Regions from separate parts of the Homo sapiens genome. Here regions 2, 3 and 4 are each reported to be linked to region 1. The links are microRNA targets in miRTarBase. Many come from high-throughput screens and were not tested one by one. Region 1 holds a microRNA gene; each other region holds the end of a gene's coding sequence.
The links. Region 1 holds the annotated microRNA hsa-miR-126-5p (CAUUAUUACUUUUGGUACGCG, at 868-888, opposite strand). A microRNA usually pairs through its seed, bases 2 to 8, with sites in the 3' UTR of a target mRNA and lowers its output. Matches are read on the target gene's strand: a 7mer-m8 pairs with bases 2 to 8, a 7mer-A1 pairs with bases 2 to 7 and ends in A, and an 8mer does both.

Region 2: miRTarBase lists MBD2 as a target of hsa-miR-126-5p. The part of its 3' UTR that is shown has no 7-base or 8-base seed match.
Region 3: the mRNA of METTL8 is a reported target of hsa-miR-126-5p. Seed matches in the 3' UTR shown: 7mer-A1 at 2,764-2,770.
Region 4: miRTarBase lists NAA50 as a target of hsa-miR-126-5p. Seed matches in the 3' UTR shown: 8mer at 1,386-1,393, 7mer-A1 at 981-987 and 7mer-m8 at 278-284.

Annotation. Positions count from the first base shown.
Region 1 is chr9:136,668,403-136,671,503 of GRCh38, reverse strand. MIR126 (microRNA 126) reads right to left here and starts at 902; the gene lies at 818-902. EGFL7 (EGF like domain multiple 7) reads right to left here. Exons shown (of 11, transcript NM_016215.5): 5 at 2,831-2,947; 6 at 1,783-1,898; 7 at 1,495-1,590; 8 at 1,174-1,335; 9 at 490-554. RefSeq lists enhancers at 1,070-1,569, 1,570-2,071.
Region 2 is chr18:54,157,239-54,160,339 of GRCh38, forward strand. MBD2 (methyl-CpG binding domain protein 2) reads right to left here. Exons shown (of 7, transcript NM_003927.5): 6 at 2,527-2,665. The coding sequence ends at 2,539. Among named protein-coding and RNA genes, the nearest start is that of SNORA37, 64 kb to the right of the region's middle.
Region 3 is chr2:171,321,485-171,324,585 of GRCh38, reverse strand. METTL8 (methyltransferase 8, tRNA N3-cytidine) reads left to right here. Exons shown (of 10, transcript NM_001321154.2): 10 at 224-3,101. The coding sequence ends at 414. Among named protein-coding and RNA genes, the nearest start is that of METTL8, 110 kb to the left of the region's middle. RefSeq lists an enhancer at 132-231 and a silencer at 313-607.
Region 4 is chr3:113,719,149-113,722,249 of GRCh38, forward strand. NAA50 (N-alpha-acetyltransferase 50, NatE catalytic subunit) reads right to left here. Exons shown (of 5, transcript NM_025146.4): 5 at 1-2,789. The coding sequence ends at 2,612. Among named protein-coding and RNA genes, the nearest start is that of USF3, 24 kb to the left of the region's middle.

The DNA of each region.
Region 1 (3,101 bases):
ATGGATCCAGGCCAGGGCCCCCTCGGCAGTCAGCAGCGAGGAAGCCACCTCCCCAGGGCCAGGACCTTTTCAGACCACCCCCAGCCATCCGTGGGTCGGGACCATGTCCCAGGAGACTACGGAGCCTGTACCCGGGCCTGGGCCTCTGCTGTTGTGAAGACCTGCCCCCTGCCGACGTCTCACCTCCTCCAGCAGGTCCACCCTGGACTGCCTGCCTCCCCCCCCGACGCCTCATCTCCTCCAGCAGGTCCACCCTGGACTGCCTGCCCCCCCGACGCCTCACCTCCTCCAGCAGGTCCACCCTGGACTGCCTGCCCCCCCGACGCCTCACCTCCTCCAGCAGGTCCACCCTGGACTGCCTGCCTACCCCCCCGATGCCTCACCTCCTCCAGCAGGTTCACCCTGGACTGCCTGCCCCTCCACACCTCACCTCCTCCAGCAGGTCCACCCTGGACTGCCTGCCCCCCCCCCCCCCCACCAATGCCTCACCTCCTCCAGCAGGTCCACCCTGGACTGCAGCCTCTGCACTTCTTCCTTCATTGCACTGTCCACTCCTGCGGGCAGAGCCAGGCGCTGGGTCACGGCCGGCCGGCTCCCCACCCACACCCCCAGGCTCCCTCCTGTCCCCAGGGAGAGGCAGAGCCAGAAGACTCAGGCCCAGGCCTCTGCCGCCCCCGCTGCCTGCCTGGCGCTGGCCAGAGGTCTCAGGGCTATGCCGCCTAAGTACGTCGGGGCGGGTGGCTCTGCGCAGAGGCTCAGGGTCCCGGCCACGCTGAGGGAGGTCAAGGCTGAGGTCTCAGCGGCGTTTTCGATGCGGTGCCGTGGACGGCGCATTATTACTCACGGTACGAGTTTGAAGTGTCACAGCGCGTACCAAAAGTAATAATGTCCCGTCGCCAGCGGAGGCGTGGCGTCTTCCAGAATGCTGCGCTGGATGCAGACAGGACCCCGGGACGGGGCACTTCTGCCTTCTTGGCTGATATGAGGCTCCGGGCAACCTGCCCCCAGTTCTCGGGAACCCACCTATCCTCCCTCCCCATCCTCCCTCCCTGGAGAGGGAGTCCCCACCGCCTTCCGCCCAGATTCCAGTGCCCCCCACCATGCCTAACAGCCACACGGCAATGTCCACTGCCTGCCCGCCTCCCCAGGCCAGGCACAGCCAGGGCTGTTTACCTGTCGGGTTGGGGGCCACCCTGGGGGGCCCTCCCTTGGGCACACAGAGTGTACCGTCTGCAGACAGGCTGTGCCCCTCCCAACACTGGCACCAGTAACTGCCGGCGGTGTTGACGCAGCGCTGGGGACAGCCGCCCCTCCTAGCACTGCATTCATCCACATCTGCAGGAAACGGGGTGTCAGGCGGCCATGCCTGCGGGAGGGGTCCTGCCCACACAGCTCCCTTCACAACCACCCACTCATGGGCCAGCAGTAACCCCAGGACATGCAAGGAGGTGCCCAGGACCCTTCCAGGGCCCCCCAGGGTAGAGCCAGCCTCACCTGACTGGCAAGTGTCACCCCGCCATCCTGCAGGGCAGCGGCAGCGGCCAGGCTGGACACAGCTCCCTCCGTTCCGGCATGGCGGCTGGCATATTGCTGTGGGCGGGGGAGGCTGGTCACCAGCTCAGTTGGGTCCCCAGCACCCTGTGGGGGCAGCTGCTAGGGAGTGGGTGCTCTGCGGCAAGGTGGTGCTTTGCTCGGGGTTCAAGAAAAGCAGCAGGAGCGTTGCTGGAAGATTGGGGAACAGTCGCCCTCCTAACACCGGGCGCCGAGGGACATAGCCCTCACCTGCTCCACAGGCCCCAGGAAGCCCGCTGGTCCTCTTCCAGCCGGGGCAGCACGCGTAGCGAGGCCTGGCAGGGGCCAGCCCAGGGCTGCGGCGGTAGGCGGTCCTATAGATGGTTCTGTGGGGTGGGTGGGACAGCTCAGAGGGGCATCCTACTCCCCCTTAGTCACCTGCTGGGCATCTAGAGTCCCCTCTCAGAGTGCACAGGGTCACCCCAGCATGCCCCCAAGGGTCTTCTCCTCAAGGGATGGCACTGAGGGGTCACTGCACAGCCGTTTCCCTGCCTGGGCCTTCCGGTGCTGGCCGGGACTCAAGCCACAGCAGGAAGGCCCAGCCACACTCCGCATGGAGCAGAGGCAGTGGCCAGGCCTGTGTGTGCCCCCACCTATCTGGTCTCCTACTGTGGGGGCATCCAGGCCCAGAGGAGAGGGTGTGCCCGGCCTACGGCGAGTCACGGCAGAGTGTGGGCCCTGGGCATCGGAGCCCTTCTTAAACCTCCAGAAGTCTGAATTCCCAGGCCCCTCCCCCAGCAGGGGGTGGAGCTCCCACACCCAGGAAGGAGGACTCTGAGACTTAGGGGTGTGTGCCCCTTGTGTGGGCATACAGGACATTTCAGGGTCTCATCTGTGCCCACTGGGGGCCGTCATGTGGAGGGGGGTGCCCAGTGGAGTGGGACCAGGGGAGTCAGGCACCATTCTGTGTATATGGGAACTTGCAGCCAGGGATGCCAGGGTAGGGAGGGGTTAGTCCCCCGGAAGTGGAGGGGTGCAGACAGGATGGGTGACCCCTCTAAACATGGGGATGCTCTTAGAGGTGCGGTCCTTTGAGACGTGTCGGGGCAAGAGCAAGGATTAGGACACTGGAGGTGATCGTGGAACCCCTTGGCTCCGGCCGCCCTGGGTCGCCCATCTCAGGCAGCCCTCTCATGGCTCTGGCCTCAGTTTCCCATCTTGGGTCCCAGGATTCACCCCCGCCTCGCCCCTGACATGCTGATGTGTGGCCGACTTGGGAGGCTGGGGCTGGGTGAGCTCGGTGTGGTGGGGCACTCACCGGTAGGTGCTGCAGGCCCGGTGCCCGTCGCAGGTGGTGAGGAAGGGCTGGTACACACGCTGCACGAACGACTCGGAGACAGGGTCCCCGTGAGCCCGGACAGCACACACCCTACGGCTGCGGGGGTGGAGAGGGGGTCAGCCCAGGAGTCCCAGAGCAGGACCCAAGAATGATGGGAACATGTGGCCGGGGCAGGACCCTCAGCAGGAGCCCCCAGGGAGTCCCCGACAGGTGCTGAGGGCCGCCTCTAGGAGGTGCTGAGGGCTCCCGG
Region 2 (3,101 bases), not on the chromosome of region 1:
ACAGCACTGAACTGGATTGAAATGATTTTTTTTTTTTTTTGAGACAGAGTCTCACTCTATCACCCAGGCTGTAGTGCAGTGGCGCGATCTCGGCTCACTGCAACCTCCGCCTCCCAGGTTCAAGCGATTCTCCTGCCTCAGCCTCTCAAGTAGTTGGGATTACAGGTGCCCGCCACCATGCCCAGCTAATTTTTGTATTTTTAGTAGAGACAGGGTTTCGTCATGTTGGCCAGGCTGGTCTCAAACTCCTGACCTCAGGACATCCATCCACCTCAGCCTCCCAAAGTGCTGGGATTATAGGCGTGAGCCACCACACCCAGCCTGAAATGATTCTGTATGGTCAGGAAACTGTGACCCAGAAGTGAGTGCTGCCATGGATGGACATGTAAATGTAAGACATTATATGTATTATTGGATTTTGGTCTTGCTGTGGCATGAAAGATAAAGGCACTATGGAAGGGGATAATTGTGTTAACAATTCAACTCACCCTCCCTGCAATCCCTACCCTTAGCCTGTTCCCCTACCAAACAGAGTTCCCTCCCACCCAGCTCAAGTGATGGCTCAAGTGAAAACCCTGAGGCATCCTCGCCACTCTCTCACCCGCACTTCCAGGCAGTCACCTGGTCACGTGATTCTTTCTCCAGCTATATCTCAGATCTACCCATCTCTTCTTCTCCCAACCTATTGGCATGTCAACATCCTCCTAAAGCCACCATCATCTCTTGCGAGACTACCGCAGCAACATCCCAACTGGTCTCCTTGCTTCCAAGCTTTCCCTACTCCAATCCTTGTATTCATGCAGCAGCCATAGGGCTCTTGTAAAGAAGCAAATCTGATCATGCTACTGACTCTTCAGTGATTCCTGCTAATTTTCATGATCAATCTCAAGTGGTCATCAATCTCCCTAACAACCCACAGGTCCTACGTGACTAGGTTCACCACCCACACATTCCCCCCACCCCTCCCCAGACATACTGCATTCCAACCACGTGGATAATTTCTTCATTCCTTAAAGAAACCAAGTTTCTCCTTGCTGTTCCTTCTAATGGGAACACTTTTACCCAAACCTCTCCTGGCTCACTCCTATATATCTTTCAGGCTCAACATAAATGTCACTTTCTCAGAGAGGCTCTGTTGACCCTTGACATCATATTAGCACCCCATCCCTCCCTCTGTTTTGGCTTCAAAGGAAACTAGTAAATAATTGGTTTTGGGGTGCCAAAAAGGAAGACATGGCCTGCTGAAACAAAGCAGGATGGAAGCCGGGAAGCAAGACGTCACAGAAAGCCTTAAGATCTGCACGTGCTCCTCTGAAGACAAGGTATGCCCATGGCACAGAGCCATGAGCCTGGAATGTGAGTTTGAGATAAGATCAAAATGTGCATTTTTGTTGCTGTTTTTTGAGTCAGAGTCTTACTCCATCCCAGGCTGGAGTGTAGTGGCACAATCTCGGCTCACTGCAACCTCTGCCTCCCGGGTTCAAGCAATTCTCATGTCTCAGCCTCCCGAGTAGCTAGAATTACAAAATTCCAGCTATTCTACCACGCCCAGCTAATTTTTATATTTTTAGTAGAGACAAGGTTTCACCATGTTGGCCAAGCTAGTCTCAAACTCCTGACCTCAAGTGATCCGCCTGCCTTGGCATGCCAAAGCGCTGAGATTACAGGCATGAGCCACCAAACCCAGCCTAAAAATGTGTATTTTTTAAGGTAAAGTATTTATTATACTTTTTAGTGTCCTTCTTGTTCTCCCTGCATCAAATCTGTGCTAGGGAGAATCTAAGAAAAAGAAAGAGATTTTGCCTGCTTTGCCACCATAATTTTAAAGAGGAAGCAATATGCCCTGGATGCTACTGTGATGGAGATGACAGTCACCTTCTTCTTCTGGGGCCGTTCCTCCCTACATGACAAAGTCCTTTTCTTCTGCTGCTGCTCTTCTCTAGTGACACCTTAGAGGCTTTCCACCTGGTCTTAATGAAGGAGACTAGATCCCTTGCAAGTGACTGCAGGGGTGTGAATGTCCTCCCAGTATGAGAACAAAAGAATGCAATAACTTATATGGTCCTTCAATCCAGAGAGAAGAAACAAACAACAGCACATGCAGAACCCGAGCAGAGGAGTAGCTTTTTCATTCACTGCTGAGGAAGCTACAGGGAAAATAACAAGAAAATACAGCGACACCTTTTTTTTTTTTTCTGAGATGGGGTTTCACTCTGTCACCCAGGTTGGAGAACAGTAGCACAATTTTGGCTCACTGAAATTTCTGCCTCCCAGGCTCGAGTGATCCTCCCACCTCAGCCTCCTGAGTAGCTGGAACCACACACACACAACACCACACCCAGTTAATTTTTTGTATTTTGGGTAGAGATGGGGTTTTGCCATGTTGCTCAAGCTGGTCTCGAACTACTGAGCTCAACTGATCGCCCGCCTCAGCCACCCAAGTGCTGGGATTACAGGCAGAAGCACTATGTCCGGCCAAGAAAACACACCTTAAGTTCCAAGTCACTCTCTCTGGTGTCAGTTTACCTGATCATATTCTTAGGCTTCATCTCCACTGTCCATTTCAATATCCATCTCTTCTGTATCAGCAGCTCGCGACAAGATGTCTGCCATCAGTGCTTCTTCCAATTTCTTGCGTACTTGCTGTACTCGCTCTTCCTGTTTCCTTTTTAAAAACAGAATAAAAAGGCACTGAGAATTTGGCAAGTAATGACAATATGAATCTGCTACAGAAGTTCATCCTTACTTCAAAATAATTAAATTCCTAAGAAGAATAGACTTCCTTTTCAGATTTTTGCAGAGGTTGCTTCTACACACAAATCAAACCTCACCAATGAGCCTTGCCAAAAAGAGGAATGTTCACAGAGGCAGTTATCCCTCATCACACATGAAATTCTAGAAAGAGCAGATTGACGTCAGTGACCTTTTCTTCAACTTTGAAAATGTCAACTGTGTCAAGATTTGGGTTTATTCCTATAAGGACAATTAGAAATAACTTAGAAGCAGGAATAAAAGATGGAGGGAACATAAATAACAAAGGAAAAGTGACTTGTTCATAGAAGCACTGAGAAAGATGGAGGAAGCAGAGGCGTGATAAGCTG
Region 3 (3,101 bases), not on the chromosome of region 1:
CCGTGTTAGTCTGTAAACAGGTGTATTTTTATATGCATGGTGTATTTTTGTGAAATAGAAGAAACTCGCTTGGTTTCACAGGTTTCCTTCACCAAATTGTTCTAGAGAGTGTTTCTTGTATAAATGAAATTTAGATGGTCAGTTATTCCATCAGTGTTCTACTCCTGACCTCCCCCATCTCTAGTCACATGTCATATCTTTTATTGCCATTTTTGTCTCACAGGGGAAGTCCACAGTATGTTCTGCAAAGCCAGTTTAGATGAAAAGCAAAATCTGGTTGATCGCCGCTTACAAGTTAATAGGAAAAAACAAGTGAAAATGCACCGAGTGTGGATTCAAGGCAAATTCCAGAAACCATTGCACCAGACTCAGAATAGCTCCAATATGGTATCTACACTCCTTTCACAAGACTGAACTTTGTAACATGTTAAGGTACAAAGCCAGAGGACTGTGCTATTCAAGGACTACTGTAAGTCTATTGTTTCTCAAAAGACAATGAGAAAAAAAGAAGAGAATTTGTATTTCCTGCCGTTTTGTCATAGGTGAGCTCCTTTGTGCATTTTAAGCACATGTAAGTGGTTCAGCACAGTATGCCTTTTTCTGTGCTTTGAAAACTTGATATGCTCAAGCTTGTTTGAATTTATTACATCTAACCATTTTGCTTGTTCCTTGATTTTTATAAGCATTCAATTAAGTTAGTATTATGTCAAGTAATTTTGAGAAAATGTAACTTGACATTTTTTGCAAGTAAAAAAAATTGTTTATTTGTTTAGGCTTAGTAAACCAGTTCCCAAACACAGTCAGACTCTTCCCATTGTCATCTGATTGCAGAGAGAAAGCACACCTTATTTCCAGGGAAAGCTACAACAAGCCCAAGGTCAAAGTGTATTATTTTTTGTCTTGTTGTTGTCTATTTTCTCCCAATTTTTTTTTGAAATTCAGAGGCTCATATCTGAAATAGAATTTTAGTTCCTCTTTCCTTTCCTAAAATTGGGGAAGTACAGCCCATGCTGACATTATTTTCAGGCTATTCTTAGATATACAAGTTGTTAGGCCAGGTGCAATGGCTCGCACCTGTAATCCCAGCACTTTGGGGGGCTGAGGCAGGCAGATCGGTTGAGCTCAGGAGTTCAAGACCAGCCTGGACAACATGGCAAAACCCTGTCTCTCCCAAGAATACAAAAATTAGCCAGGCATGGTGGCACACACCTGTGGTCCCAGCTACTCAGGAGACTGAGGTGGGAGGATCGCTTGAGCCTCGGAGGCGGAGGTTGCAGTGAGCTGAGATTGTACCACTGCGCTCCAAACTGGGTGACATGGTGAGACCTTGTCTCCAAAAAAAAAAAAAAAAAAAAAAAAGGTATGTAAGCTGACAAGCTCTTGTATCAAGGGCTTTTGAACCAGAGCAACTTCATCTTGAATAGGGACTGTGTAAAATGAAGCTGAGACCTACTAGGCTGCAATCCCAGGAGGTTAAGACATTCTTAGTCACAGGATGAGATAGGAAGTCAGTACAAGATACAGGTCATACAGACCTTGCTGATAAAACAGGTTGCAGTGAAGAAGCCGGCCAAATGCCACCAAAACCAAGATGGCAATGAGAGTGTCCTCTGGCTGTCCTCACTGCTACACTCCCACCAGTGCCATGATAGTTTACAAATGCCATGGCAACATCAGGAAGTTACCCATATGGTCTACAAAGGGGAGGCCTGAATAATCCACCCCTTGTGTAGCATATAATCAAGAAATAACCTTAAAAATGGGCAACCAGTAGCCCTTGGGGCTGCTCTGCCTATGGAGTAGCCATTCTTTATGTTTTACTTTTTTTTTTTTTTTTTTTTTGAGATGGAGTCTTGCTCTGGCACCCAGGCTGGAGTGCAGTGGCGTGATCTCAGCTCACTGCCAGCTCCACCTCCCGGGTTCACGCCATTCTCTTGCTTCAGCCTCCTGAGTAGCTGGGACTACAAGCACCCACCACCATGCCCAGCTAATTTTTTTTTTTTTTGTATTTTTAGTAGAGACGGGGTTTCACCATGTTAGCCAGGATGGTCTCAATCTCCTGACCTTGTGATCCGCCCGCCTCGGCCTCCCAAAGTGCTGGGATTACAGGTGTGAGCCACCGCGCCCAGCCTATTCTTTACTTAAACTTGTTTTCACTTTGCTGTATGGACTCAATTCTTTCTTGCACAAGATCCAAGAATCCTCTCTTGGCGTCTGGATCCAGACCCTTTCTGGTATCAGTGGTAAGCTCTGTTTAAGACAACTGTCATACCCAAGAGAATTCTTAAATTGTGGCAGTTAAAAATGTATTTATCCCCTCGAGGGCCGGGCGCAGTCGCTCAAGCCCGTAATCCCAGCACTTTGGGAGGCCGAGGAGGCGGATCATGAGGTCAGGAGTTCAAGACCAGCCTGACCAACACTGTGAAACCCTGTCTCTACTAAAAATACAAAAAAAATTAGCCAGGCGTGGTGGTGGGCACCTGTAATCCCAGCTACTCGGGAGGCTGAGGCAGGAGAATCACTTGAACCCGGGAGGCAGAGGTTGCAGTGAGCCGAGATGACACCACTGCCCTCCAGCCTGGGTGACAGTTGTTAGACTGCGTATCAAAAAAAAAAAAAAAAATTTATTTACTCCCTTGCTTCAAAAAGGACATAAGTTGGCTTGCAAATCACATTTTGTAGAAATGAAGTTTTTAAGATTAGTCTCATACTCATTACATAATATTTATTGACTACTTACATATTGAGTGCTAAATTCAGTGGAATAATATGAACAATAAAGACCCAGCCTTGTTTATGCTCTTCAGGGAGCATAAATAGAGTACAGCTGGCAAAACAAAATGTGCATATCCCAAACCTGTAAATCATGATCTAAGACAATATACAAACACTCAAATAGGGAACTTACCAGCTAGCAGACTTTGATTATGAACCACAGAACCTAGAATAAATAAATACTCTCTTGAAAGAACCATCATTGGAATAATTAAGTTCCAACTGTTTTTTCTTTCTGAATTCACTTAAAATCCAATTTCTAGAAGAATATCATTGGTCCAGCTTTAGTCATTGGTTCATCTCTTAACAGGCTGGGGCAGGGCAGC
Region 4 (3,101 bases), not on the chromosome of region 1:
CCATGGTTTCCCAATAGTTCTCTTTTTGGAGGACTTTTCAATTGATGAGTAAACTGCTTTAGATATTTCAGAACTTCATTCCCCAAATGAAAGCTAATCTGGACAAACTATATATTGCATAGATTTCTCTACAGATTCTTTGCTTTAAAACCTAAATGCAACTAACATAGTGTAATTTTAACCTATTTGCCCCACAGTAAAAACTATCTGTCCTGAAAAATATGATGGATATATCCTGTGATTTTCCAGTTAACAGAATTGTTCTACTTCAAAGATAATTATTATCATATATCAAAATAACCAGCTCAACATAGGACATTACTTCAGTCTTTACTGACTCATAGGCATATGAACTTGTGCCCAGCTTTTTACCTCTTCCACATTCTCCTCCTCCTCCATAAGTGGATGGAATTATTTAACTAAGTTTGATGTAGGACAATTAACCCTTTACAAACATTTACAATTCAGGTTAAGTCACTGACTACCGTGGAAAAAGAAACTCTATATATAATGATAGGGAGCCTACACACTCAATTCAAAATTTAATATTTTTTCCTCCTTAAATAACATGTACTTGTCATGAGGCAGCTATTAGGTTTTCAATAACCACATTTAGGGATACATTCATAGGACTGATTAGATAGTCCAGGTGAAATGGTTATAGAAATAGAGGCAGTGTCATCTCAGAAAACCATTTATATATCAAAGTCTATTTTGATATCTGGGAAGTTTACAAAAAGGCTGCTGCATTCTTCAAACTACTTATGCCTTCTGTAACTCAAGCACTCTTCTCTTGCCAAGAGCAAGCTGAAGCTTATTCATGAAGATAAAGGTGCTTAACGCTAAACTTTTCTTCTAAGCTTAGATTTGGATTGTTTAAGAAACGAATACCCCCAAAAAACCAGCAAGGTCTTTCTACATTTTTACCATCTTAAGATTAGAACCCTATAAACTCATTCATCAACTGTCTTCTTTTTCTGTATTATTCTTGGCACTCAAGATTGTTGAAGTCTACTGCACTTTGTACTTTCACATTCTCAAATAAAAACTTAAGGTTATAAAGTGTGCATAAACATTTTATAAAATAATTTTGTCATTTAACATATTTGGAAATGAGACTTTATACCGCAATTTTACATAAGAGGATAAATATGAATGAAACTTCCTTTTAAAGTCAAATGACAGAAAGCTCAAGCCCTGTGCATTATTTTAAAGTCTGAGAACATTTCTAAATAGTGGAGATGGGACTACAAAAGGAAAACATGAATATTTCAGATGTCTCCCATCTTACAAAGTTATCAATCTGTCAAAGCCACTCCGTGTGTGCCGGAAAATGATCTGGCATAAACCAGTCCTCTCAGTGGAGGAGGTCACAGTGACATTTGTATTATTAACATTTTACACTTCTATTTTTCCAAGAATAGAAGCAATATGTTTAATAATTACCCCTGCCTCAAATCCTTAAACTCAATATCACAGGCACTGAGTATAAGCAAATCTGGGATGTCCTCCAACAGATGTGCAATAGCACAGCTATGTTATTCTCAAAAATACTATTTTTTCCTATAAAATCAAATGCTCAGTGGCCACACTTTTAACAGCTGGCATTAGATGACAGTAATTGAATTTTTTGTGTCACAGCCCATCTAAGCTTCCTTTTAGGTATTTTTTAGTATGTCCAAGAGAAAACACCTGCTTCAGGTTTATTTAGGGGTAGTGACCTATAAGGACATCAACTCAATTTTTAAGGTTAGACTATTGTTGGGTTTACTGAAGAAAAAGGAACGGGAAAAAATTAAATCACAACACACCTCTTTAGGTCAGTTAAAGGCCATATCTCTAGCTGGGATATTAAAAAAAATTAATCTCACCAGCCCAAATTCTAAAAGTTAATGCCACTAGTAACAATCAACAGCAGGAAAAACAAACCTGCTAACAACCAGCCCACTCATTAGCAAAAAAGCAGTTTAACTCAAATACTTAGACCAAAGTATAACACTAAACCAAACTGCCCCACCCACCAGCAAGAAGAGAAGATATAATTACTTAAAAATCAACATAAGCTTAGTATTTCTTACAAGGATAACAATGTTCCAACTCCCGAGAGAGTGCTCAGAAGGACTAAAGGTGGAGTGAAGGCAATGTCTAGGGATTAGTATCCCAAAGTGTTTAAAAACCCAAAGTACCACAAACACACTCAACTTGTCTATGAATTAGAGAACAAGATACTGCTGCTGCTTCTTTTTGTCTTTTGAAATATACAATGTTTTGTAGGCTCTGCCCTTCAATGTGAAAGCAGGACATTAAATTTGAAATTATTTGACAATTAAATGTTTAGGACCATCTAACTTCAACTGCAAAACTAAACAGATCTACCTTGTCCTTCCTTCAAACCACCTCACAAAAATAAGAGAAAACAATTCAAACATGATTATTTTTTTAAAGTCCTTGAAAGTATTAAAACTCTCAGAGAAAAGGAAAGGAAGAAAGAAAAACAAGAACAAGGAGGGAGAAAAGCTTTAAAAGAAAAGTGTTGGGGTGGGGGAGGAATCAATGGGCCTCTCTTTTATTTGGCGACAAGCAAGTGCAAGAAAGTTCATTTGTAATTTGTTCAGTTGTCTGTCTTTTGCACATCTGCATTCTGACCAGAAGGAACTTTGAGGTTTTTCTGCAGCACATGAGCATCTGCGGGCTCTATCCTCTTATAGTAGTTCTTCTTTGTCTCAATAATCTCAAAGCCAAACTTCCTGTAGAAGTCAATTGCCGACTCATTGCTGATCTGGACATGCCTGAGATATAAGAGAGTATCAGAAAAAAAATTAAAATTAAGGTTTCATCAAGTTTTAAGCATTCTCCACAGATAGCTCCAAACATCTGTTACATTCTCTTTACAACTACCAGTAATCAACAAGGGTTAGGCATGCTTACCTAAAACCTTTTGATGACAATTTTACACTTTTAATCTAATTTTTACATTTGTAAGACAGCTGGCTGAGATTAGAAGGCTCAGTGTTTATTCTTGTAGTCAACAAAGGGAAAAGTACCACAGCTATCAAAATTTTTTCACTGTAAGAGGATAAATTATTAAAAGGCCCTATTAA